Linked DNA regions of Homo sapiens: regions 1, 2, 3 and 5 are each reported to be linked to region 4. Evidence: microRNA targets listed by miRTarBase, many of them from high-throughput screens and not tested one by one. Region 4 holds a microRNA gene; each other region holds the end of a gene's coding sequence. Distances are from middle to middle.

Evidence for each region. Region 4 holds the annotated microRNA hsa-miR-6780b-3p (UCCCUUGUCUCCUUUCCCUAG, at 3,168-3,188, opposite strand). A microRNA usually pairs through its seed, bases 2 to 8, with sites in the 3' UTR of a target mRNA and lowers its output. Matches are read on the target gene's strand: a 7mer-m8 pairs with bases 2 to 8, a 7mer-A1 pairs with bases 2 to 7 and ends in A, and an 8mer does both.
Region 1: miRTarBase lists WAC as a target of hsa-miR-6780b-3p. Seed matches in the 3' UTR shown: 7mer-m8 at 4,271-4,277 and 7mer-m8 at 2,920-2,926.
Region 2: miRTarBase lists PGRMC2 as a target of hsa-miR-6780b-3p. Seed matches in the 3' UTR shown: 7mer-A1 at 1,175-1,181 and 7mer-m8 at 2,474-2,480.
Region 3: miRTarBase lists MYO1B as a target of hsa-miR-6780b-3p. Seed matches in the 3' UTR shown: 7mer-m8 at 3,496-3,502.
Region 5: miRTarBase lists ATF6B as a target of hsa-miR-6780b-3p. Seed matches in the 3' UTR shown: 8mer at 1,271-1,278.

Annotation. Positions count from the first base shown.
Region 1 is chr10:28,618,899-28,624,001 of GRCh38, reverse strand. It overlaps WAC (WW domain containing adaptor with coiled-coil), which reads right to left. Exons shown (of 14, transcript NM_016628.5): 14 at 890-4,465. The coding sequence ends at 4,396. Among named protein-coding and RNA genes, the nearest start is that of BAMBI, 56 kb to the left of the region's middle.
Region 2 is chr4:128,266,985-128,272,089 of GRCh38, reverse strand. PGRMC2 (progesterone receptor membrane component 2) reads left to right here. Exons shown (of 3, transcript NM_006320.6): 3 at 677-2,848. The coding sequence ends at 774. Among named protein-coding and RNA genes, the nearest start is that of PGRMC2, 18 kb to the left of the region's middle.
Region 3 is chr2:191,423,438-191,428,542 of GRCh38, reverse strand. MYO1B (myosin IB) reads right to left here. Exons shown (of 31, transcript NM_001130158.3): 31 at 3,157-4,706. The coding sequence ends at 4,583. Among named protein-coding and RNA genes, the nearest start is that of MYO1B-AS1, 180 kb to the right of the region's middle.
Region 4 is chr6:43,432,683-43,437,787 of GRCh38, reverse strand. MIR6780B (microRNA 6780b) reads right to left here and starts at 3,246; the gene lies at 3,168-3,246. ABCC10 (ATP binding cassette subfamily C member 10) reads right to left here. Exons shown (of 22, transcript NM_001198934.2): 3 at 4,428-5,105; 4 at 2,940-3,167; 5 at 1,881-2,037; 6 at 1,541-1,650.
Region 5 is chr6:32,111,580-32,116,667 of GRCh38, reverse strand. ATF6B (activating transcription factor 6 beta) reads left to right here. Exons shown (of 18, transcript NM_004381.5): 17 at 104-188; 18 at 700-1,404. The coding sequence ends at 929. Among named protein-coding and RNA genes, the nearest start is that of TNXB, 4.8 kb to the right of the region's middle.

The DNA.
Region 1 (5,103 bases), not on the chromosome of region 4:
TAAGGCTGGTCTCAAACTCAAGCTCAAGCAATCCTTCCACCTTGACCTCCCAAGTGCTAGGATTACAAGGGTAAGCCACTGCACCTGGCCCAGGAACGGCCTCTTTGAGGAGACTGATAAAGGGGCAGCAAGCTGTACCAATTTCTATCACGAGCTTTCTAGGCAGAGGAAAGCAAACCTGCAAGGAGAGACTGCAGCGATGAAAACGTGGCAATAACCAGGGGCTTGAACACGCAAGCCATGGTATGAGCTCTGGGTTTTATTCTGAGTGTGAATCATTGCAGGATTATGAACAGAACAGCCTGGTGGAGAACAGGTTGTGTGTGTGCGGAGGTGGGGTGGAGAAAACCTTGGGAGATCTGAGTAGAAGCAGAAAGGTTAGGAGGTTGTGGCAGGGATTTGGTTCAAAGATGATCGTGGATTGGACTAGAGAGGTGAACATTAAGGAAACATTTTCAAAGAGCTTGTGGGTCTTGATGGATTAAATATCGAGTGTTAGAAAAGAAGGATGACTTGATTTGGGTTTTGGGCAACTTTAACAATGATGGTGTCAATTACTAAAAAACTAAAAGAGAATAATCTGAGGCACAAACCGTGAGTTCTTTTTGGAGTGCATGCCGTGTTAAGGAAAGCATCTAAGTGGACTGTTTTTGGGAACTCAAAGAGATCAGGGCTGGAGATAATCGGGATGTAAAGTAGCACATGAAGGGGTTTTTAGAGCCAAGAGCCTGGATGAGATCTTCTAGACAGGCTGCACTTTAGGGCACTATCAAAGGTCGTGATCAGGAAAAGGAGGGTACCGCAAATTAGAGCAGGACCTAAAGAATCCCAATTTTACGTCATAATTTTCACTAAAATGTTTCAGAGACTATTGAAACACACCGACTGATTAAAATCTCAGCAGTAATCTGTATTTTAAATTTCCTTACTCAAATGCAAATTATGCATTCTAAGACTTTCAAAACACAGTTCTGAAATAACTGCACAATATAGTCAAAACATATTTATTACTTTTCAGTGTCATTTTGTACACTCCCGTACAAATACAAGAATATAGCCATATTTACAGGTATTGAAAAGAAATCTGTATATTCAAACCCAACATCTAAATACAGTAGCTGGAAGTCCTGAACTACAATAGTTCCGGTGCGCAGAGTGAATTATTTCCCGCGTTGCCCTCTCCCCTTTCAAACAGTCCCTCAAAGATATGGTGGTTTTTGAACATAATAAACTGTTTTTGGAAATGGGTAACAATTCCTGGCAAAGTTTTAAGAACCTCCTTCCCAAGATTTTACAAGTGTGAAACAAAGATTTAGAAGAAAAATAAAACTACTAATTTGGACTGTTAAAAGAAGCATAATGTCTTGAAACAGGGCTGAAGCATGTTTTTAGTCTGGAATTGCAGTCATTTTAAAATCAGGTTAGACAAGTTAGAAAAATAAAAAGCGTAGGAAAGCTGGTTCTTCAGGGGAGTCTGTAACCTTCTTTCATCAAATATATTGTTACAATACCACGACATTTTAAAAGTTTGAATAGAGACTACTGATCTTTTAAAACGGGGGGGGGGGGGGGGGGGCAGGGGGAGGGAAAGGCCACTCAAGTTCCCTAGAGGCTATTCAGTACTTCTATTTTCAAAGTATCTAAACCAAGGTACATGTTCAAATCCATAACCAACTAGATAAGGAATACTCTAGTCCAGAACATTATGCTTATTTTAATAGATATTCCCTAGTTAAGGTTAGGAGCTGGATACCTTGTATTAAGGTGCAATATTTAAAATATTTCCACAAAATTTTAGATTTTCTGTGTTTAAAAATTCACTACTGGCCAGGAGCGGTGGCTCACGCCTGTAATCCCAGCACTTTGGGAGGCCAAGGCAGGCAGATCACCTGAAGTTGGCAGTTCAAGACCAGCCTGACCAACATGGAGAAACCCCATCTCTACTAAAAATACAAAATTAGCCAGGCGTGGTGGTGCATGCCTGTAATCCCAGCTACTCGGAACGCCGAGGCAGGAGAATCGCTTGAACCCAGGAGGCAGAGGTTGCGGTGAGCCGAGATCGTGCCATTGCACTCCAGCCTGGGCAACAAGAGTGAAACTCTGTCTCAAGAAAAAAAAAAATTCACTATTAAGAAATACCAAATTAGGCATCTTCTCCTAAATATATGTGACTAATTCATTTAGGGATGTAAACTTTTTTGAAAAACAAAACATAGGTACACAGACCAGTAGACTATAAGCAAATCAAATTCAAATTTACCTAAATCACAAATTGCCATCTGATCAGGAAACATTTGCCTATTACAACAAATTGCTCACTTCTTTCCAGGAAAGATACAGTAAGGTTTCTAGCTGAACACACAGCTCTTTGGGGTTTCATTTACATGCACTAGTTAAATTCAGCAGATGTTAACAATCTCACAGAGGTATAAACATGACAATAAATTAATGACATGTCTTTTCTTACATTTAAAAAGTATCCTTAAATTACAGGAAAATATCTTCAAGATTTTAATTCCTTTTAATTACACTGGAACATTTTTGTATTTTAGAAAACACCAACACTATCGCTTACAGTTAACTTTTTGAGCTTACTGAAAAGCCTGAACATTTAACTTCCATACTTTCAATATATGCTTAAAGCACAAGAGCAATTTCAAAATTTATGTTAGCATCCGAGAATGTAGTAACATTGACATTGATGTCTAACATAAAAAATAAGCCCTTGGTGCTGCCAGTTTTGGAAGCACTTATCTGCCCCAACAGAAAAAAAAAAAAAAAAAAAATCACCAAAAAACCCTAAACCAATTTAAAGAAAAAAAAGAAGAAGAAGAAGAAACACCTTTCTAAATCAGATGGCAAGATTTTGATGGTAAAGGTTTTTTTGTGGGGGAAGAAAAGATTTTTTTCATGCGGAAACCCTTGTGATTTGATACATTACTGGCAGTGTGAAGCTAAGGCTATGTGACTAATATTTCAGCAAAGGAAAAAAAAAGTCAAGGTAATTTTATAGTAGCAATAGTTTCTTTTTTTATTTTAATATACTTTAGGAAACAATATACAAAGCTGCGCTTTCCTGCTATTTCCAGATAACAGCAGGAAGCTCCAATTACACAAATTTAGCGTTTTGTGATGGCTAAGAACAGCAGTCAGCACCAGACTTGAACAGTTAGCTACAACACAAACATCCTTCCAAATGAAATGTCATAATAGCAAGACAGGTAAACCAGGGTTTAACAAATGACAACCACTTGGGAAGTGACTTAATCATTCTTGTTGAATTTCTTATTTCATTAAATATCTCATACACAATTTCCTGTTAATACGTTTTAAACAAAACCTCCCTTAAGGAATTATTTCAATTAAGTATAAATATTCAACAAGAACAGTTCTGATAAAGAATCCCCAGGTAGTTCAAATGCTAATGTGCACTGACCGAAGGAAAAGAAAAATAACAATTTTTGTTTGTTTTAACATGTTTATTACAACAGATACAATTCACATCTGACTAGCTCTGTTTCCTCTTTCCCCTCCCACAACCACGTTCATTGGGCCATTTCCTTATATTTGAGCAATCAATGTACTTTGAGCACACATGCCTGTCCAGCAGTACTTTTAAGTCCATTCTTAACAGGGTGCAAATGGATTTCAATAATTTATACAAACAAGTAGGTTATGCTCAATCACTGCAATTTTAAGCTACTGTACACAGGAATGAAAAGGTTATAGAAAAGTGCCATAGCAACAGTGCCTTAAGAAAGGAGATAAAGAGGAGCCTTAAAAAAATGGATAAAATCAGAATTTCAGAAGGAAATGGAAACACACGGGAAATGAAAAACATTTCTCTGCAAAACAAATGGAGAAGCACTGCTCTTGATCAGGTGCAAGTGTGGAAACAGTTGTTTCATATTTTGTACACTGCCCATATGGTTCAAAATCGTATCCTTAGACACAAATCGCCTGGCGCTTGCACTGAATTTTTGAAAATGCAAGATTTCTGAATGATAAATTAACCCCCCCAATTTTTTTTTTTTTTTTTTTAAAAAAGCTAATTTTGCAGACAGGTTTACATGTAAAAGGCTAGGTATTTAGCCACCTCAGCATTGATTAGTTTTGGATGTCTAAGCTCTGTTACACATGGCTTCCCATGGCTTCACTCTACAAAACATATTTACAACGTGAAGGATACATCTACAAGAAATCTACATTTCAAGGGTTTTACAAATCAATCTTGTATCTTTCCCCTGAATTGACTCTCACAGACCCCGTCCCCTTGTCATTTCCTTTGCCCAGCTTAACGGTCCAAAGTCTACTTAAATGCAGCTCAAAAATGTTAAGATTGGGCAACAGATTTACAGTTCCTGTTCTCAAAACCATGTGCAATTATTCACATCTTCACACCATGAAGGAATTCTGATTTTTTAGCTTTTCAAGTTCCTTAATTTGTTGTCTCAAAAATAGTATCCTGAAAAAAAAAAGCAGACATTAGAACCTGTGTACATATACAAATATTACAGAAAACCCGAGCTTTTATAATTAAAATTTTTTAAATTAAAACAAGTGATTTCTAATTAAGGCAAAGAAATTTAAAAAATTATTTAACTATAAATTGGTTTACAGTTAAGACAAAGTAAACATTTAATACATAATATCTATTAAAGTATAAGGATGATGAAAGGATGTTTTAGTTTTCAAACAACTTTTTATTTTATTTTATTTTTTGAGACAGAGTCTTGCTCTGTTGCCCAGGCTAGAGGGCAGGGGTGCAATCTTGACTCACTGCAATCTCCGCCTCCCGGGTTCAAGCAATTCTCCCTGCCTCAGCCTCCTGAGTAGCTGGGATTACAGGCACCTGTCCTTACGCCCGGCTAATTTTTATATTTTTAGTAGAGACAGGGTTTTGCCATGTTGGCCAGGCTGGTCTTGAACTCCTGACCTCAGGTGATCCGCCCACCTTGGCCTCCCAAAGTGCTGGGATTACAGGCGTTAGCCACCGCGCCCAGCCTTTTCTAACAATTTCTTAATAATTCCTTTGGCTCTAACAACTTAAAATGTATTACTTTATAAACCGTATCATCACAATAAAGAAAGCAGTAGCTATTA
Region 2 (5,105 bases), not on the chromosome of region 4:
ATAAAAATATGATTGTTACATGTGATAATTATTTTGAAAATCAATATTTAAAAAAATGACTTGTTACAAATTCTAAGCCTCAAAAATTGTGATACTTACAGTCAGCTTCTTCATTAAGGTTTAGTTTTTTAAAAATACAGGCTTATATTTAAAACTGAGTTGATTACTGATTTCAATACTATAATTTATTCCAAAATGATTTTACAGATCTTAACACTCGAAATGTAGATAAAAAATATCTTTCCCCTTTCTTATGCCCTCATAACATCAGTTTTTACCACTTGTGTGATGCTGTCCCAGCTGTTTATCTGACCCCTGGGTCCCTTGGAACAGCTGTTCTGGTTTAGCTGGGTACTGAGATGGGTCCTGGACTTACTCATTTTTAAAAAAGATCTCCAAGTGATTCTGATGCAGTATCCAACTAAGAATCACTGGTACAGAACACCCTCTTGCAAAGAATTCCCAAGCCTTATAAGTTCCCTAATCCTGTTTTCTTTTGTTCAGGCTTTACATGTGTATAAAGACCAGCCATGGTGAAGCAATTTTAGAATATTTAGATAATATTCTAATAATCATATTTTATATGATTCTAAAACAGACAAATGCCTTTTCTCTGTATAATGGAATAGTGAAACAAATTTGATCACCACTGATTTTCTTTTGATGTATCTTTCAGAAAAATATGATTATGTAGGCAGACTCCTAAAACCAGGAGAAGAACCATCAGAATATACAGATGAAGAAGATACCAAGGATCACAATAAACAGGATTGAACTTTGTAAACAACCAAAGTCAGGGGCCTTCAGAACTGCAATTCTTACTCCCTTTCACAGACTGTCCGGAGTCTTTGGGTTTGATTCACCTGCTGCGAAAAACATTCAACAAATTGTGTACAAGATAAATTAATCTCACTATGAAGATTTGAATAACTAGACATTATTTATGCTGCCAAACTCATTTGTTGCAGTTGTTTGTAATGTCTAGTGGGGCTTCATCATCCTGAAAAGAAGGAGACAGGGATTTTTTTAAAGAGCAAGAAAGTCACAATATTACTTCTTTCCTTCCTTTTTTCCTTCTTTCCTTTCTTCTTTCTCTTTCTTTCTTTTTAAAATATATTGAAGACAACCAGATATGTATTTGCTACTCAAGTGTACAGATCTCCTCAAGAAACATCAAGGGACTCCTGTGTCACATACTGTGTTTTTATTTTAACATGGGTGAGGGAGGCGACCTGATCAGGGGAGGTGGGGGTACACATCAATTTGAGTTGTTCAGGCTACTGAAACATTAAAATGTGAATTCCCAAACTTTTCTTTTTGGCTTTGTCAGGGAAAAGAAAAATATCTTTATAAAGAAATCTTTGGAAATTAGGAGAAGGAATTTCAGGTGGGTTTAAGTCAGAGCTAGTTCCCCAACAGAAAGATCATTTGAAACCAGTTTTTATCCCTTCTCTTTCCTTCCCTTTCCCTAAATCAAATCAATATTAATTGTGCCTTATTTCACTTAACATAGACTTGAATTATTTTTAGGGAAAGCCCCTATAATGAATTCAGAAATCACTACAAGCAGCATTAAGACTGAAGTTGGAATATTCTGTTGACCATAAAACCTTGATATCATTCTGTGTATATAGAATGTAAAAGGAATATTACAGTGTTAACTGCCATATATGTAATATACACAAACTCAATTAGCATTGTAATGGCCAAATGCATTCCCCCATGCTTTTCTGTTTTCAAAAAAATTGAAAAACAAATCAACTCTTATCCCCAACAGCTGCCTAATTTTAGGAGTCTGACCCTCCACATCTCACTGGTGTGGGTGCATGGGGCTGTGGAGTGGGTGTCAGTATGGATGTGTCTGAATGTGTGAGGCCTTGGAAGGGACTCTTTCTGCAGATACTGTAAATACAAGTACCATTTTAATAAAGCATGTACAATAAACCAAAATAAGCTTGAGTTGGACTTTATATACAGAACTGTAAGCCAGTGCATTATGATACAGTTGTAAGATTGTGCATTTGATTCAAGATAAGGAAAAATCTTGGAAATGAAAAGCAGGCACTGGTTAACCAAGTTGTACACATTGTACCACATTCAGCATAACTTTAGGAAGAAATTCCACTTTGTGGAACATTCTCCAGAAATCCAAGATTATTCAGGTAAGAATTGGTATATTAAATGTACATCTTTTTACTTTCTATTTTGATGCCAACTGATTATACTAGACAATTAGCACTCCAGGTGGTTATTGAACACAAAACAGTAAAAGAATATTGCACTGATAGATACTAAATTATTATTTTATTAGGTTGAAAAAGCCCTTACTAAAAGCCCCTCATATATCAATTACTTTATTTCATTATGACTACTTAGGTTCCGGGCTGGGGACAAGTTCACTTAAAAAGGCAATGTTATTTAACAGGTCACCAGTTAAGACTTCTGCTTTGTAGATACATGCAGAAGCCATCAAACAAGGGGGAGCTTTTAACTGCAACAATAAGCTAAAGTATGTAAAATACTACATTCTATTCAGTCTTGGAGTGTTTTGTAGAAAGTTATCTTCAGCCAAATCTTTGCTGAAGACTGGTTGTGGAGTGTTGGTAAATGCTTTGTGTTTTTATGTAAAATATTTTCTAAACAAAAAATGTTAAAAGTACATGTCCTCTGTAGTAAACTGATATCTATATATATGAATCATTCAAGCCTAAAGTCTAGTAATAAACTGTACTTGTGAATAGAGAAACCCTAAATATTCATGCAGAAAAAATTATGCGGTCTGTTAAGAAAAATGAGTAATTTGTGTTTTGGACTTGAAATAAACAGTGTTCTGTAGATAATTCCTCAACTTCAGTTGAATGTTTCTCATTCTCAGGTAGTTTTTCAGGCAGTATTTGAATGAGGGGACCAGACAGTGCTGGTATTGTTCCTTTGTTCCTGTTCCCCGCTCCCCCCTCCACACAGACAGACACATGCACACACACACACACACACTCCTGCTTAGCCCTATTTTCGAAACTTGCCTGATAATTAGAATTGCTTAAGGTACAGATTCTTAGCCTTCAATCCAGACGTACCACCCGCTAAGCCAGAATCTTTAAGAGAATGGGCCTCAGAATTTATTTGTAAGGAATACCTCAGGTAATTCTGATCAGGAACACTTAGGAAACACTGGTTTTTCAAGTTAATATTGACCATCTTTGTTAGGCACTTGAAATGGCCTTACTCAGGTAATTTTGGTCTGATTCCCTTCATCTGGTTTTGTGTCATTCAGAAGACTTCACAAAATTCTAATGTATGATTTTAGAAAACAGCAAATTTTGATAGTCTTTAGATTTTTATCTTTGGGTAGCATTTCCAAGTTGTCATATTTCCCACATTAAATCTACACTGTGTGTACTAGCCAGTTTCTCTGCATTAGGAAATGAACCCATAACAGTTACAGATCAGGTTTTTAAAACCTTGACCATGGTGCTAAGGCTGCTTAGGTTTCCTAACAGTAATTCTACGTGCCTTTCTGTAGGTAGATCTGTTTCTGCAGGTAGATCTTCAGAATCCAACATTACACCTACCTTTACCCACATTCTTGAACCTAATTTGCTGAATTACCACTGGGAGATATTTTGTTCTATAGAAAACAGATATTTTCTACAGAATCAGGCTGTCCTTATCCAAGTATTTCACATAACCTCTATTGATAACAGAAGTGCAGCAAGTTGCTAGTAAGATGTGCCATTAACATGTTAACAGTGTGTAACTACAGAGCTTTTATGTGTCAGAATAAGCGGGTAATACTGTAGTAAAGAATTTATAAAACTTTCAAGTTGCTTTGAGTATATTGAAAATAAGAGTCATGGAATATTGTAACAGTGATACTGAATGAATTGTTCTAATTAAAGTAGCAAATGCTTAAAAGATAGCTTTTGAGTATGTTCCATTAAGGTCAGCCATCAATTTGTTAGATGATACTCATCACTGATTATTTTCTATTTGACTATGGCAAGAAAGCTCCAATAAAGACGACCCAACTTTCCTGTTTTTAGGCAAAAACCATCATTCCTAGGCACTGTTAGAAAAGCACGTACAGAAAAATTGCCATACTCCTGAGTCACTTTGAGTACCAGCTTTGCATTTGTTCTACCACCACTAGTGGCTGAGAGCACATTTGGGCTGCCTGTAATTACTCCATTCAAGAGAGCATTTGACATGCTATGAACACTGGCTTATTCCTAAAATTTTTCTTTTACAGTATCCACACAAGATCCAAGAAAACCACATCATGATGTTTAGTGTAAGAAGACCAATATTTGCATATGCTTTTAAATACTTTGAAAGCATGATTTTAGTGGCTGCATAGTATTGTTCCCAAATAATAAAGTTTTTAATGAAAATGCAGGAAGTTCTGTAGCAGGATGAGCTGCAGACAAGAACCCCTCAGACACCAAGTTGTGGAAGCAAAGGGCTTTATTCAGCTGGGAGCATCGGCGGACTCAAAAACCGAGCTCCCCAAGTGAGCAATTTCTGTCCCTTTTAAGGGCTTACAACTCTAAGGGGGTCTGTGTGAGAGGGTCGTGATCGACTGAGCAAGCAGTAAGAGTATGTGACTGGGGGCTGCATGCACTGGTAATCAGAATGGAACAGAAAAGGACTGGGATTTTCACAGTGCTTTTCCATACAATGTCTGGAATCTATAGATATAACATAACTGGTTAGATCAGGGGTTAATCTTTAACTACCAGACCTGGAATGCAGTGCCGGGCTGTCTTACTGATTTTGCTTCTTTCTTTTCTTTAACTCCTACTTTTTCTTTGAGGCAGAAATTGGTCATAAGACAATATGAGGGGTGGTCTCCTCCCTTATTCCCCCACATTGAGAACCTCACTCATTAGTGGGAGTTCTCACTTCCATCCTCACTACCCATGTCTTCTTGCAAGACAGGTCATGATTCATATAGCACATTTGTGCTGAAGCATTTTGGTGAACTAAGGTAGCAATGAAGCTTTTTATCATTTGAAGTACAGGTAGCAAACAAAGGAACAGTAAGCAGGTTCCTATTACTATTATAACTCCTATTATAAGAGTTTTAAATCTTCCTAGCACTGGGA
Region 3 (5,105 bases), not on the chromosome of region 4:
TTCCCTATTCCTTTCTGAAATACTGAGAAGCTGAGACTATTTTCCTTGGTTATAAAGTTAGATTTTTGTCGAATTTCATGGAACTGACCAGAGGTGATCTAGCAACCATGCCAGAAAAAAAGTTAATGAGAAAGAGATTGTGGCTTTTGCTGTACTGTGATTAACTCCAGATTTTGAAAATGATCTTCAAACCAAAGAAAATGAGGCAAACATTCCATGATCTGGAGGAAACCAACTCAAAACAATTAATTTTCTCCTGTGTGGCAAATGAAATAAAAGCTGATGAGACCAGAAAGCATGTGCCACCTCATCAAGGTTACGGCTTCCTAGGGTTTAGCTAACAAAAACCTAAGAATCAAAGAGCACACGACAGAATTATTAAAGTAAGACTCAAAGAAAGTGCTCCTCCAATAATAACACAACAGAAAATCTTCGAATGTATGATGAAAACTTACAGCTGTTTTTCTCAACAGGAGGAAAGAAAAGCAAAACTACTGCCCTTCTTTCTCTTCCATTCTACCCCTATGCATCTAATTGTTTTAGTGAATTTGAGTACCACAATATTCATGGAAAAACAATGTCCAGCTTAAAAACAAAGGCTCTTAATATGATACATTCTGGTTAAAACTCATTGTGAGAACAGACACATTAATGAATTTACTAAATCCTTCCCCAGCAACTTACACCATTTCAAAGGTACTTGCTATTTCAAGATTTCAATGAGCCTAAGAAATACCTTACCTATTATATATGAAAAGTAACAGATAAGAAGTTTTGCCTTTTATATTTGGCCTAAAAGCATTTTGAACCATGCTCTAATTATCACAATTATACTCAATTACATGAACTTGAGAGTTCTCAGCATATTAATTGACATGGCATAATAAACAGTTCATTCTCTTAGATTTCTGCCAAATCCGTAATATTGACGATATCCCTATGATTCTCAGAACTCTTGGCCTGCTTCTTTGCCATTACAGACATACCCCCATCACCCCTGGGTATGAGCAAAGCTTTTCAAATTTGAGCTGAAGGCCTTCCATTTGAATTCTGGGTCCAAGTTATTATTCAAGAGTGTGCAGTACAAAACTGTAATCAAGCCATTAGAGAATAACTATTCCCATACTCCCTTCTTGTCCTGTGGCAGATGGAAATCAAAGTCAAGAGTAGCTGCATCAACTACACTGCATACCTTGGCAACTACCATGTTCTATCTGGTACCCATTACCCGTTTACTTTTTTCAAGCCCATCAGTTAGTCACTCCAGGGTCTGGGTACTCCTAGTCACTACTGGACTAGATCTAGGAGTCTAGGTCCTAGGTGACTAGGTCTAGTCACTCCACTCACTCCTAGAAGTCACTGCAGGGGCCGAGCAACCTTCTAAGTTATGGGTGGGAACAAGTTAGGGCTGTGAGGCCAGGCCAGAATACACAGGAATTCTGGAGTGTCATGAATGCTTTAACTTTCCTTTGCAGGACAGCGACAGAAACCGAGATAAAGGAGTATCAGTTTCTTGCTCACTGTAATAGAGTGATGCCACAGTTATTGGTAACCTCTAGTTCGGCACTGGGGTTGGCAGATTTGGCAGGTATGGCTCACTGGGCCATGTGCAGCCAGAGGGAAGCTTTAGACTAATGGTTCTCATATTTGGGTGAGGGTCACCAAAGGAGGACTTTTTAAGGCATAGACGGCTGTGTGTAGCTATAGAGAAGCTCTAGTAATTTCCCTTGGTGGTTCTCAAACTTCAATGTGTGTGAGTCATCTGGAGATTTTTCTTTTTTGAGACAGGGTCTCACTCTGTCGCCCAGGCTGGAATGCATCTGGAGATTTTCTTTAAAATGTCTGTTTTCAAACTCTATTCCAGAGATTCTGATTTGGTTAGTATAGGGTATGGCCCAGGAACTGGCATGGGTTTTTGTTTTTTTGTAATCTTTTAAAAACGAGCTTTCTAGCTGGGTGCGGTGGCTCACGCCTGTAATCCCAGCACTTTGGGAGGCTGAGGCAGGCAGATGACTTGAGGTCAGGAGTTTGAGACCAGCCTGGCCAATATGGTCAAACCTCGTCTCTACTAAAAATAAACAAATTAGCTGGGCGTAGTGGTGCATGCCTGTGGTCCCAGCTACTCAGGAGGCTGAGGTAGGAAAATCGCTTGAACCCAGGAAACGGAGGTAGCAGTGAGCTGAGAATGTGCCACTGCACTCCAGCCTGGGTGTTGCAGCAAGACTCTGCCTCCAAACAAAACAAAACAAAACCAAAAATTAAAAAAAACACACACACAAAAAACAAGCTTTCCTTGTGGTTTTGAACCAGATTGATGCGCAGTGACATTTTGGGAAACACTGCTCTATAGTGGGTCACCTGGGCCATAGTGGCACTCTCCTTTGTAGTGTGGTCAGGTTATTACTGCTCTTCCCAATGGGGAATGTGAAGGGCTTTCACCTTGGTACATAAGGAAGCTTTCTGGCTGCAGTTCAGCAAATCTTTCCCAACACGTCAAGTCACAACCCATGAAGAATGGGTTCCATGACCAAAAATTATTGAATACTTCAGTGACAAGACTGATTGAACAATCTGCAAATAAGGTATTTGGAAAAATCTAACAAGTAGACCTATGGGATATTTCTCCTTTCCATCCTAGTCTTCCATCCTCAAGTTCCATTTAGGAAGCAACCCAATGATAATGAGTAGGAGACCAGGTAAATCCACCACAGCACATCCATACAACGGAAGAATGAGCAGCTCTTCATGATATTCTGCTAGGTGAAAAAGGCAAGATAAAGAACAATGGCTACAATATAATATACTAGCTTTTGTCTACTAAAGCAGAAGAACGTAAGAATCTATTTTGATTTCCTTTTGCAAACATATGGACAAAGTAATACAAAAGCAACTAACAACAATGGTTAATGTTTCGGGGAGGGTGGGAACTAAGCAGATAGCTGGTTGATAGGATGGAGAATTTGTAATGTATATATTTTAACACTTACTTACATGCTGAACAATGTGAACATACTGCATGTTATTTAAAACACCACACCCTCTCATTCCCAAATTTCTACTCACCAGTATCAGGAACTATTAATCTACCACTTTAGGCACAAGGCAAGAAGAATCTAAGTAATTACATCCTCTACCTGCACCAATAAACACAAAGACTTCTGAGAACTTCTTTATGTGAGCAATTTTTAAAAATACAAGTCAAGAGAAAATCCCCAGAAAATATTTTCAATTAATGTTTCTGGTTTATAAAAGATAAGTGAAATTCAGTTACACAGAGAACATATAATGTTTGGATTGTAAAACCTTTCTGAGAGATGATACATTGACACACAACATATGAAAATAGCTTGAGATACAAAAATACAGTTGTGATTCAGGAAATGGCACCAAATTAGAACAATTTTATTATTTAACATAATACCAATGTATATACATTATCCTCCCAAATAAGAAACAATTTGATTCCAAAGTTTAAAATGTAGTTTCCAAAATGAACCCTTGTAAATTTGAAGAAAAAGAAAGAAAGCCCTGCAAGTTACACAAATTTTGATCCATGACTAAAATAGGCACCCTGTACCAATCACCTTTCTCATACAAAAATGTATATTATAAATAAAACTTTCAAAAAAGATCTTGGATGTTTTATTGCACATCATACAGAATGTTTTACTGCTATCTGAATGGCTTTTAGCCCTTTACTTTGTTAGGTGTTTAAAATATCTACTCAAATTTGGGTGAAAACAATATTCTGGAGATATTATCATTTCGAGGATCATATATGGTATTTACCAGAAACAGAAACATATAATCTTACTGGACTGCTTCTGTCACTTTTTCTAAAATAAGAATGACTTCTATTTTCTACTGTTACAAGTAATTACCAGAGTTTTAAACAAATTAAAAGTCCTGTTCAAATGTCAGTTTTCTTTTTTTCAAACAGAAACCACATGTAGAGGGATTTAACCTGGTCATTCATTTCTGCCCCCTCTTAGGACCAGCCCTTCTTGAAGCCTATATTGTTAAATATCATACTACAGGGTTCCTAATAATGCTGTCCATCATTAACAGTTATTGTTTTGGTCTCACCATTTCTAAACCTTCTTAGATGTCGTTAAACCAGCACAAACCAGCCAGAATGCAATGGTCTCAAAAACAAAAAGGTTCCTAATAAGTTTTCATACCATCTAGCACAGTGCCTAGCATAGAGTAGGCATGGAATAAATATCTGATGAATGAATGCAGTATCTTTTAAGACCATTTCCTATGCTTATATTAATTAATGATTTATGAGTAATATGCTGATTTAGGGTACACAGACCTAACATGATGACTAAAGGAAGAACACATCAGACATGAAAATAGACACTGTTAGTTTCTACAATCCTGCTCCAGGACAGAACATGTATTTGAAAGGTTAAAACTATTCCAATAATAAAAATTGATTAGTCAAATATTTTTATTTTGCCAAAGAACTCTAAAAGCCTTTGGTGATTCCCAAACATACAATGAACCCCAAATAAAACAAAACCAAATTGCACTATTACAAAGGAACAAGTCCATGAAAGTAGAGAGGAGGCGCCAGTTAAGGGACAGCAACTTCAAGGAGACGGTTGTTTTTTCGTTTACATGTTGGGACACTCCCATTTTTCTGGTTTCCCTGAATAAACTTCACACATACTTTGTCCTGTCTGAACTGTACCAGGAACCTAGGAGAAAAGAATAAAACAAATTAAAGTATACACAAAACAGCTCATGATTACAATAACACTTGCTTTTGTATTTTAATGGATACTGATCTTGACGAGTACAGGCTGCGCATCCCTAACCTAATCCGAAAATCTGAAACCTCCAAACTCTGAAATGTTTAAAGCACTGACATGATGCTTAAAGGAAATGCTTGCTGGAACATTTCAGATTAAGACTGAAACATTAAGTATAATGCAAGTACAGTCTATGGGCTACCTAACAACGTTTCAGTGAACAATGAACCACATATATGATGGTGGTCCCATAAGCGCGGAAAAATTCCTATGGCTTAGTGACGTCATAGCTCTCCTAATGTAGGGCAATACACTACTCATGTTTGTGGTGACTGATGTAAACAT
Region 4 (5,105 bases):
GCTTCACAGGCTGATCAACAAATCAGGCTCTAGAAAAGTAGGGTGTTTTTTTCTCCACTCAGAGTGGCTATCAGTTTCACTGTCTATGTGAAGGGCCTCTGAAGGGGAGCAGCATGCCAGAGAGAATGGGAGGAAACCACCCAAGAACTTCCAAGGTAAACTCTGAGACAGGCACTCCAGAACGGGAGAGGGAAGGGTAGAATTCCAGGCTTTAGGGCCTGGATGATGGGTTGGCTAAGTCGACCTGTGGCTAGAGTTACCATATCTCAGGGGAAAAAGCAGAGCTTTGCATAGATCCCTATTTCTGTGGCTTAAATTTTTCTGTTTACCTTTTTTTTTTTTTTTTTTTTTTTTGGTCATATGTTCATGGAGCTATCTCCCTGCTCAAAAAAATATAAAAAAAAAAAAGTCCTAGTTCCTTCTCTAGAAGGGACTGGGCTCTCAGAAGCTCTATCTGCCTGTGATGCCCCAACCCTGCCAGCCAGGGTTGACCCAGCTACAAGTGGGCACCACTTCTGAGACCTTTCCATGGGAATTTGGGATCAGGTCCCAGAGGCAGCTTCTCCTTGTTGGCTGTAACTTGTAAACTCGAGCATTCTCTGTAGTCACATCTTCTGCTCAGTGGAGGGTGTGTCCACAGAGAGAAGAGAACCAGGCAAATACAGGGAGAGAGGCACACAGAAGCAGAGAGCTCTGCGAGTTGAGGCCTGGTTCTGGGCTGTTTCTAAGATCCAGCTGCGTTCCTGCCTTTGGATTCTGCAATGTATCTCTACATCCTTATTATAAATTCTTGTTTGCTTAAGCTAGCTCTAGTGTGTTTCTGTAACTTATACCCAAAAAAGCCCCAACTAACACATTAGCAAAATTCCTTTGTACAAATCTAGCCTTGTCTTGCCTGAACTAAGAGGAAAAACAAAACATACAGCCCAAGCCAGAAACGTGAGCCAAATGTGGTGGAGGCAATTCAGCCACCACCAGAGAATGCCGGGTTGAGCTGTGGGGCACAGGGTTGGACAAAGGTCAGGAGAGAGTGAAAACTCAGAACAGGAGGTGAACAGGAGTTGGCTTATTGCCAGGAATGCCCCATTTTAAGTTCTTTGTATGCTGTAGCATGAGTCACAGGGTGTGATTGCTTTTCACCAGCCTAAACAGAGGATCCCCATTTGCAAAATATTTCTTGGAAGCACTTGCTGGGCCTCTCCCCCAGATCCCCAATCTGGGGGAGATGCTACATAAACCCCAGGGCCTGTTCTGAATGCTGCAGCTTCTGAGGGACATGGAGAGACAAGCACACCCATTGGTCTGGACTGGATGGATACAAGCTGCCTAAAGACCAGAGAGAGGTGCAACTATTCTGAGATTCAGATGTGAGGTGTCATCTCCTCATGATTAGAACCTGCTCACCAAATGCCTATCCCTCCTGCAGCAATTAGAGCTGCAGAGCCATCAGCTATGATTGGCTCGGTCACTGCTTCTCTGACATGAGTTCCCATCTCTCTCGTTAGTCTGAGGACTCTCCCAGGGTGTCTGTCCAACAAACCTTTTTCACTTCGAGATGACTGATGAAGGTCTCCAGGCTGGTTCCAACTGGGTCCCAGGAGAACAAGGCTCCATGCAGCTCCAATACTGTAGATGGCTCTGCAGGGGGATCTGAACAGAGAAGCCACTTGATTTGGGCTCCTAATCTACCACAATCTGTTTGGGGAGGGTAAATCATGTAATTCACTTGCCAGCCCCATATCTACCTGCCCAAAGCTAAATGAGTCTGTTTTGGATTCCGCTCTCTCTAAGCCCTCTTGGTGACATCTATGCGCAGCACCCAAGTGGCTCCACTTCCCTCCTCACCCTGTGCCAGGTTCTGCCCACTAGCTTCCCATTACCTGGGCTGTAGTAGGCCTGGGGGTTGTGGTTTGGAAGGTCGAGGAAAAGCTGGATCCGGTCCAAGGACACTTTGGCCTCCAGGAGACCATTGATCACCCAAGGGAAGTTGTTGAGAGGAAGAATGAGCATTCGCACCAGTGCCAGGGCCGTGAACACCTGAGTGAGGTGGGTGCAGGGTGAAGCCCCAGGAGTTATCTAAGGGCCTGTTTCTATGGGAAGCCCTGTGGACAGGTCTACGGAGGGAAGAACTGGGCAATGACAGAACTGAAGGGCTGGCTGGCCAATCCTGGGATCAGATGTGGCAGAGATGGTCACTTAAAGAATCCTAGAAATTCCAATGTTCCTCAAGGGATTCAGGTTGCATTTTTTTTTTTCTTGACGAGTCTTGCTCTGTCACCTAAGCTGGAGTGCAGTGGCATAATCTCGGCTCACTGCAACTTCCACCTCCAGGGTTCAAGTGATTCTCCTACCCTAGCCTCCTGAGTAGCTGGGATCACAGGCATGCATCACCACACCTGGTTAATTTTTATATTTTTAGTAGAGACAAGGTTTCACCATGTTGGTCAGGCTGGTCTCGAACTCCTGACATCAGGTGATCCGCCTGCCTTGGCCTCCCAAAGTGCTGGAATTACAGGTGTGAGCCACCACGCCTGGCCAAGGTTGCATCTTTTTAACTAGGCAGGCCTAGCTCATTTTGAGTCTTTTTTTTAGAATTTCCAAGTAGCAACATCACCTGGCCTTGGCTAGACCCAGGATTGCATCATACATTTTTTTCCTAAGGCCATTAGAACGAGGATGAAGAGACCTAACCCCAAGCCTGGAACTGAATAGAAGCTGGAGTGAAAGGTAGAGGAGAGGAAAGAAAGGAACTCCTTCACAGAGGGGAGGGTTATATATCCAAGGCCCCCACAAAAAGGTTTCTTCAGTTTTCCCTTGGTTGAGAGATGAGGCAGTCAGGGATCCCTCCCTCCTTCTCAGCCAGCACTGAGGGCCCAAGCCTCTGTCTTCACTTCGCTGAAGTCTCCTTGATGCTGGTCCCCTTCCTTCCTGGTCCTCACCTTGGTGGCAGTGAGCTGGTGCCCCATGAGGACATAGGTGATGAAGATAACGATGGAGATGACAACCGGTAGGGCAGCCCACAGGTATACACAGGCCGCATCCAGGTATTTGATGACCCGGAGTCGCCCCAGCTCTCGAGCCCGGCAGGCCTCTACTCGGGCTCCCAGTGCCTGCTCCCACCCGCAGAACTTGATGACCCGAATGCCACTCAGCAGCTCTGTCACAAGCTAGGGAAAGGAGACAAGGGAGAGGCGTGAAGTGGAGGCACTGCTCATGTGTCTTCCCTGCCAAGCCTTCCCCAGGCTGCTGGCAGAATGTTCAGTACTCTAAGCTCCCAGATACTCTGCACTGCCCTAGTCTTGGTTTTCTTCCTCACCTCAGTACTTTCTGGAAATCCTGCCCTTCAAATCCTTTTCAGCCCTGGGTTGCTTCCCCTCCCAGTCTCTTACTTCTCCATTTGCTCCAGCTGGGGACAGCTTGGAGTGGGAATTCCCCACCTTCCTAGGAGGAGTGGTGGAAGGTGGAGCCAGGTCACCACAGTGGAGTAAAAGCTCTCCTCCCATTAGATGAGGGACAAAGGGCTATCTCCCAAAACCAAAAGATGTGGGCTTCGGGGGCTGGCCCCCCAGTTCCGGCCCCCGGCTTGAGTGGCACAGAAACTATTCCTGTAGAAGTACACAGGCATAAGAGGCCACACTACAGCCCAGGGTCAAACAGGCTAATGGGCCCAGGGAAGATGGGCAAGGGCCAAAACTCCTCGTCTGTAGCTGTCACAGGTAGGGGAAAATGCCTCATGCCATAACCATCTATCAACCTCCCTTCCCTCCAGGAGCACTCTGAGCTGTTCCACTAAGGGTCGACAACTATGCTGTATGAACCCCCAGGACTGCCATCCCCTTTGTGAAGGTACCCACAATCACTGCAGAACCCAGAGCTCTGCAGATTCAGCCAAACCCTAAACACCTGGAGTTGACCCAGGCAGGAAAGTGACCTATTCCCTTCCCCTCAGCCTACCCAAAGAGGCAGCTGAGGTTCTCCTAGGTCTCTACATGCAGCCATGGGGTGGTCTGTGCCCTAGATAAGGAGGTTGGAGACTTGGGTCCCAGCTCTGGCCCTAAAGACCTGTTTGGAGCCAGACAGATGACTTCCTACCTCCCAGGGTGGCCACATGTATTCAGAGCTTACTTTGTGACTGGCACTACACTAAGCATTATCTCATGAGATCCTTACAACTCTACAAGGTAAGCTACTACTATTCTCACTTTACAGATGAGGAAGGGGAAGCCCAAATAGGTTAAGTGACTTGTCTGAAGTGATTGAACCAGTAAGTGTAGAGCCAGGATTTGAACCCAGGTCTACCTTTCTCCAGTCTCAGCTCTTAACTTTGAGGTCACTCTCACTCCCTCAGGTAGTGTGCATGGGAAGACCTGGGGACCTGGGCTGGGTGGGGTCTCCAGATAGCTGAGGGACCCCAAGTACCCGCTCACCTTAACCCGCGCATCCTTGTGCTGTAGCATTTCCTGGTTGCTGGCCATGATGCGGGTGGCAATCACTTTGTTGACGGGTACCAGCAGCAGTGCCAAGATGAGACCACCCACGAAGGCCACGCCTACCTGCTGGTACAGCAGGTAGAGGGTGATGGCCAGTTGCAGGGGCAGGCCCCAGGCTTCATGGAAGCTCCCAGCAAAGTTAAGCAGCCGTTCAGAGTCAGTGCCTAGTAGGTTCAGGGCCTCCCCAGTAGGAGGGCGGCTGGGCCCCAGCTGTAAAGCCTTGCAGTACAGGATGTTCAGCACAGCCCCCCGTGCCTGAAGTGTTACCTTATATACCTCATACCCATACTGATTCTGCAGCACAGCACCCAGCACAGCCCCACCGGCTAGCCCCAGAGCATAGAGCAGGCCGTGGCTTAGTGGCTCCTGCCCCTCTTCCAGGAAGCCCACCAGTAGGGAGAGCAACAGGGGCCCTGAGAATCCCAACATGGTCCCCACCAGCTTCAGCAGTCCAAGTGCCAGATAGCACCGTCCAAAGGCCCCATACAAGGCCCTCCACAGCCGTGCCCCCTCCTGCCAGTGTGCCTGGAAGACACGAGCCAGGTAGGTTGGCTGCAGTCTGTGGGGGAGGCGGCAAATGTCCTGAGGCTGCCGGAGCTCTCCACAGGCCCCACG
Region 5 (5,088 bases), 11 Mb from region 4:
GGTTCCCAGCAGTCTGTCTTCAGTGGGGGGATGTAGAGTAGGGCTGGGGAGCTTGTTGGCATCTTTGCCTCCACCCTTCTGGCCTGGCCCATCTGTTCCCCAGGACCACCTGCTGCTCCCAGCCATCAGCCACAACAAGACCTCCCGGCCCAAGATGTCCCTGGTGATGCCTGCCATGGCCCCCAATGGTAACTCTTTCCCTGCTGGGTATGGGGGCAGTTCCAACAGGGAGATCCAGCCTGGGAGCTGAGGGGGAAGGGGGAGAGGAGCAGGGCATCCAGAGAGCTGCTGGACCCACAGGTGAGAAGCAGCAGGAAGTAGGTGGAGGGAAGAGCACCATGCAGGAGACTTGGGAGGGAGACAAGGGTGAGGGTCCTTCCCTGGTGAAGGTGCTTGGGTAGATGACTGGGCAGAGGCGGGGGGCCGGGAACCTGCTAGACTCTCACTTACTTTTTTCTCTTGATGTCCTCTCCTGTGTGACCCCACACTCAATGCCCTTTTCTTTTCCTACCCTCTCCTTGCCCCTGCACCAAACTCTGTCCCTGCCATCCTGTTTAACTCCCGCTATGGATCTGCCTCCTCACTATTGCCCTTTCTTTTTCTCTCTGCTCACCTCTACTTTTCTGACCTCCTCCCCTCCTCCCTGCAATCCCTGTTTGCCTCCCCATCTCCTCTTCCTTAACTCTCCCCTTCTCACAGAGACCCTGTCAGGCCGTGGGGCCCCGGGGGACTATGAGGAGATGATGCAGATCGAGTGTGAGGTCATGGACACCAGGGTGATTCACATCAAGACCTCCACAGTGCCCCCCTCGCTCCGAAAACAGCCATCCCCAACCCCAGGCAATGCCACAGGTGGCCCCTTGCCAGTCTCTGCAGCCAGCCAGGCCCACCAGGCCTCCCACCAGCCCCTCTACCTCAATCATCCCTGACCTCTGCCATTCACACTGACTTAGAACGGGGGGAGGGGGTACCAGGTGGCCAGGTGGGACTGTTTCAAATTTCCCTGATCCCCAGGCTTGGGGCAATTGGTAAAGGAAAGAGCAGGTGTGGGGGTTAAGCACTTATTTGAGGTGGGGGTGTTCACCTCTCTTCTCATCCCTTTTCAGAATATAGGGCTCCTCTCATTCCTGTGAACCCCCAGTCCTGGCTTCTTTGTTTGAGGGGATTGTGTGAGGTTCAGTTGTGGGGTGGGTGGTGAGCTGCTGCATATTTTTTATTTTGTTTCTCTAGTGTTATGGCAGTGGAGGTGGGAATTTAGTCCCCAGGTGGGACAAGGGAAGTTTTTTCATTTTGGAGCTAGTTACTGGGAGTAAGGGAGGGTGGGGTGGGGGGGAGTTCAGGTTTATGTGTGTGCATTTCTTTTTTATTATTATTAAATAAACAACTTGGAGGGAGTTGAAGGAATGGTGGCTGCCTTCCTGGCTCGTGATGGGGAGTTTGGGGGAAAGTGGCTTTTCCAGAGCCAGCATCAAAGAATCAAGCACTGAAGACATAGCTGGCTCTGAGGTGGGGTGGGTGCGGGATCACAGACCGCATGTCATCCCCTTGCCCCCACCCCTGCAACTCTGGGGTATATCTGTGTCTAGCAACGATGTCTCATGGCGTGACAGACTAGAGGATACGCATCCCTGGAATGTGAGTCAACAGGAAAGATGGGGCCCCACGCCCTTCAGGGTGAGCAGCCTCTGGGTCTCCTGCTCTCGAGCAGGTTCTCCCCCTCTTCTTGCTGTCCAGGATGAGCAGCTCAAACAAACAACAAGAGCTGGGGCCAGAGGCTCAGAGCCCAGGAAGTGGGGGTCTCGGTGAAGAAGGGGTGATATTTGGAAGGGAAGGGGGATGTGGCAGGATATCCTCTAAGCCCTAAACTGGAGGGGACTGAGACTTGAGAGTCCAGATGAAAGACAAAGACAAGAGTGGGGCAGGCAGAAAAAGCTGTACATTCTTATGTTTTTAATTTTTTTTTTTTTTTTGAGACGGAGTCTTGCTCTCTCACCCAGGCTGGAGTGCAGTGGCGCGATCTTGGCTCACTGCAACCTCCGCCTCTTGGGTTCAAGTGATTCTTCTGCCTCAGCCTCTCAAGTAGCTGGGACTACAGGTGCACGCCACCACACCCGGCTAATTTTTGTATTTTTAATAGAGATAGGGTTTCACCATATTGGCCAGGCTGCCCACTTCGGCCTCCCAAAGTGCTGGGATTACAGGTGTGAGCCACCATGCCTGGCTAGGCTGTGCATTCTAATTAGGAGGAAGGGGAGCAGGACAAAGTGAGGGATTGAGTCTGAGGCCAACCTGGAAGAATCCCCCTCCAGCTGCTCCTGTTCAGCAGTGCCTCAGGCCTGACCCTGCAGGAGTGTCCTGGGTCAGCTGGAGGGTGTGAGCTGGGCCTGGGCTCAATGCCCAGATGACTGGACAGGGGCTGCCTGGGCCATAAGCCCAGGCCTGAAGGAGGGAGGAAGAACCTCATGTGTCCAGCCAGGCAACCCCCACACCCCTCCCACTGCCCTCACCCATTACTGTGTTTGGGGTGAAAACAGACCAAGTAACTATGGCAACCTGGAACCAGGGATCCCAGGAACTAGACCTTTCCTCCCTCCAGAGGGCAGCCCAGCTTCTCAGCTATGCTTTCTATCCCAGAGTCCTTGAGCCTTATCCACCGTATCTCTGGAGGGGGTGCAGTGAGAACAAGGATTTTGGAAGCACATCACCTAAGCTGGATTCCCTACCCTGCCTTTCGTTAGTAGATGTCCTTAAACATTCTGAGCCTTAGTTTGCTTATCTGTAAGATGGGATGTTCCTACCTCCTAATCAGGGTTGATGACAGGATGAAAGACGACGTCCTCAGTGCCTGGTCCATAATAGATACACCTTTTCCTCATCCCTTGCCCCTTTCTGTCCCCATCTCTGTTGTCCTTCTCTCTTCCACTTTTATCCCATTTGGGTTCATTACTGTTTCGTTGTCCCATTGTCTTCCTCCTTCCTGCCCCCAGTTCGGGAAAGTACTTGAAGTGCTGGCATCTCAGGGGTCACCCTGGGGTGGGACATCCTGCTCCTCTGCTGATTGGCAAGGGACAGCTGGCACTTTGGTGTGGATGAGACATCAGACCTCTCTTGGCTGAGGGATTGTGGTGGCAGGAAGGATTGAGAAGGACGGTGAGTGGGTACCTGATGCAGGGTGAAAGCCGGGCAGGCTCTGGGCTGCTGCCTTCTAGGCCCATGTGGATCTCCATTCCTCTGGCCACACCCCCAAGGCCACTCAGCATGCCAGGTCGCTGTCACTCCTGCACCTCATTGGCCCCTCCTGCCCTATGCCCACTTTGTCTTTCTGTTCTGCTTTCCTTGTGCCACCATCTCCTTCATTTCTTCCTCAGGATCCCACCTTTTGTTCTCTCTCATCCCTGACCTCATCATCCCTCCCTTCCTCTTTCTAGACTTCTTTCCTGCCTTTCTTTGCTCTCTACCTCATTAGCAGTTATCACAACCTCTTTTTGAACCATTATTCATCACTGTTTTTTTCTTCTTTTGTATCTTCCCCACCCCATCCACTGCTTCACTGTCTTAAATTTTTTTTTTAATTTAAAAATAGAAGTGGGGTCTCGCTATGTTACCCAGGCTGGTCTTGAACTCCTGGCCTCAAGCAGTCCTCCCATGTTGGCCTCCCAAAGTGCTAGGATTACAGGCATGAGCCACCGTGCTGGCCTTATTTAAAAATATATATATATTTTTAAATTCACTGTCTTTTTCCTTTGTTTTTCTTGGTCTTCTCATCTGCTGCTGCTGCTGACCCTGTGCTTGTCTCCTCCCTTTCTCATGCCGCCCCCTTTCTATTTCCCATTCTGCTCCCTCGTCCACATTTCTTGCCCCTTTCCATTATGTCCTCTCTTTTCCCCCACTTTGGTCCTCTCCTCCTCCTTCCTTCCCCCACTCCCTTTACTTCCCACACCAGTTCTCCATCCTCTTCCCAGCTGTGGGGGCCAGCACTGGGGAGCCTGATGTTTGCCTCATCGTTCTGCTATGGCTTCTGGATACAGCACATCTGGATTCCGGGGCCCAGATGTGTGGTTGCCACAGCGACCTGGGTCCCTCTGGTAAATACAGGCGCCCACCCGCCTCAGAGCAGAGAACAAAACAATTGTGTGACTTTCTTTTGTCACGAGATAGAAATGTCCTTCCTCCTCCCTTCTCCCCACACCCATGTCTCTAGGCAAAGGAAGTTTTAAGGGTCCAAACCCTTCCTTCTGAGGCTCCCTTGCCCCCTTTTCAGCTGTAGCCTCTTAGTTCTCTCCCATCTTTCATCCTGCTCTCTGTCTTTACATTCTGTGTTCCCCATCCTCACCCGACCCCCAGTTCTCAATAATGGAATGTTGACCACCCCCTTCCCCATCTGATGCCATTTCTTCTAAGTGAATCTACACAATAACTGGATGCAGAAAAGTTTCAAAAATCTGGATTCTCCACCCTTCTTTGTACAAGTGCTTCAAAGAAGCCACTTCATTTGTTCCCTAAGTCTTCAATCCTTTCCTTTCCTGGAGTTGTTTGGGGAGAAGAGCGAATACAGGCTTAGGAATGAGAACACCTGGGTGAGACCCACCTTCACCACTACTGACTTAGCCCCTTGAACAAGACCCTTAATGTCTATGAGCCTCCGTTTCCTCAGCCACAAAGTGGGATTAATGCCCGCACTGTGTAGGAAACTGTTTTGTAAACGGAAGCCCGGCACAAGTGTTTTCTATCTTTCCCCTCTCTGGGACTGCTTTCTTGGACCGCAGCCCCTGGCATCTCTTGTTCCCCTGTCTTCATCCTTCAGGTCCTTGCCCTCAATTGCCCTTACTCTTATGTGTCTGCCTTCTCTCCTCCCTATCTTTCCTTTCCTTTTCTCTATCTTTCATCCCTTTTCCTCCTGAGGTCAGGACAGGAACTTGGAGGATCATTCAAGGAGGGAGGCTCAGAGCTGAAGACACAGGGACTGAGGTTACAGAGAACAGCCGGAGCTTGTGGACAGTTCTGGACAACACTGACCTTTCTACCCACCACCACCCAGACACCTCAGTGAAGCCAACCCCAGCTCTGACCACTGGGCTTCCCTGCCTT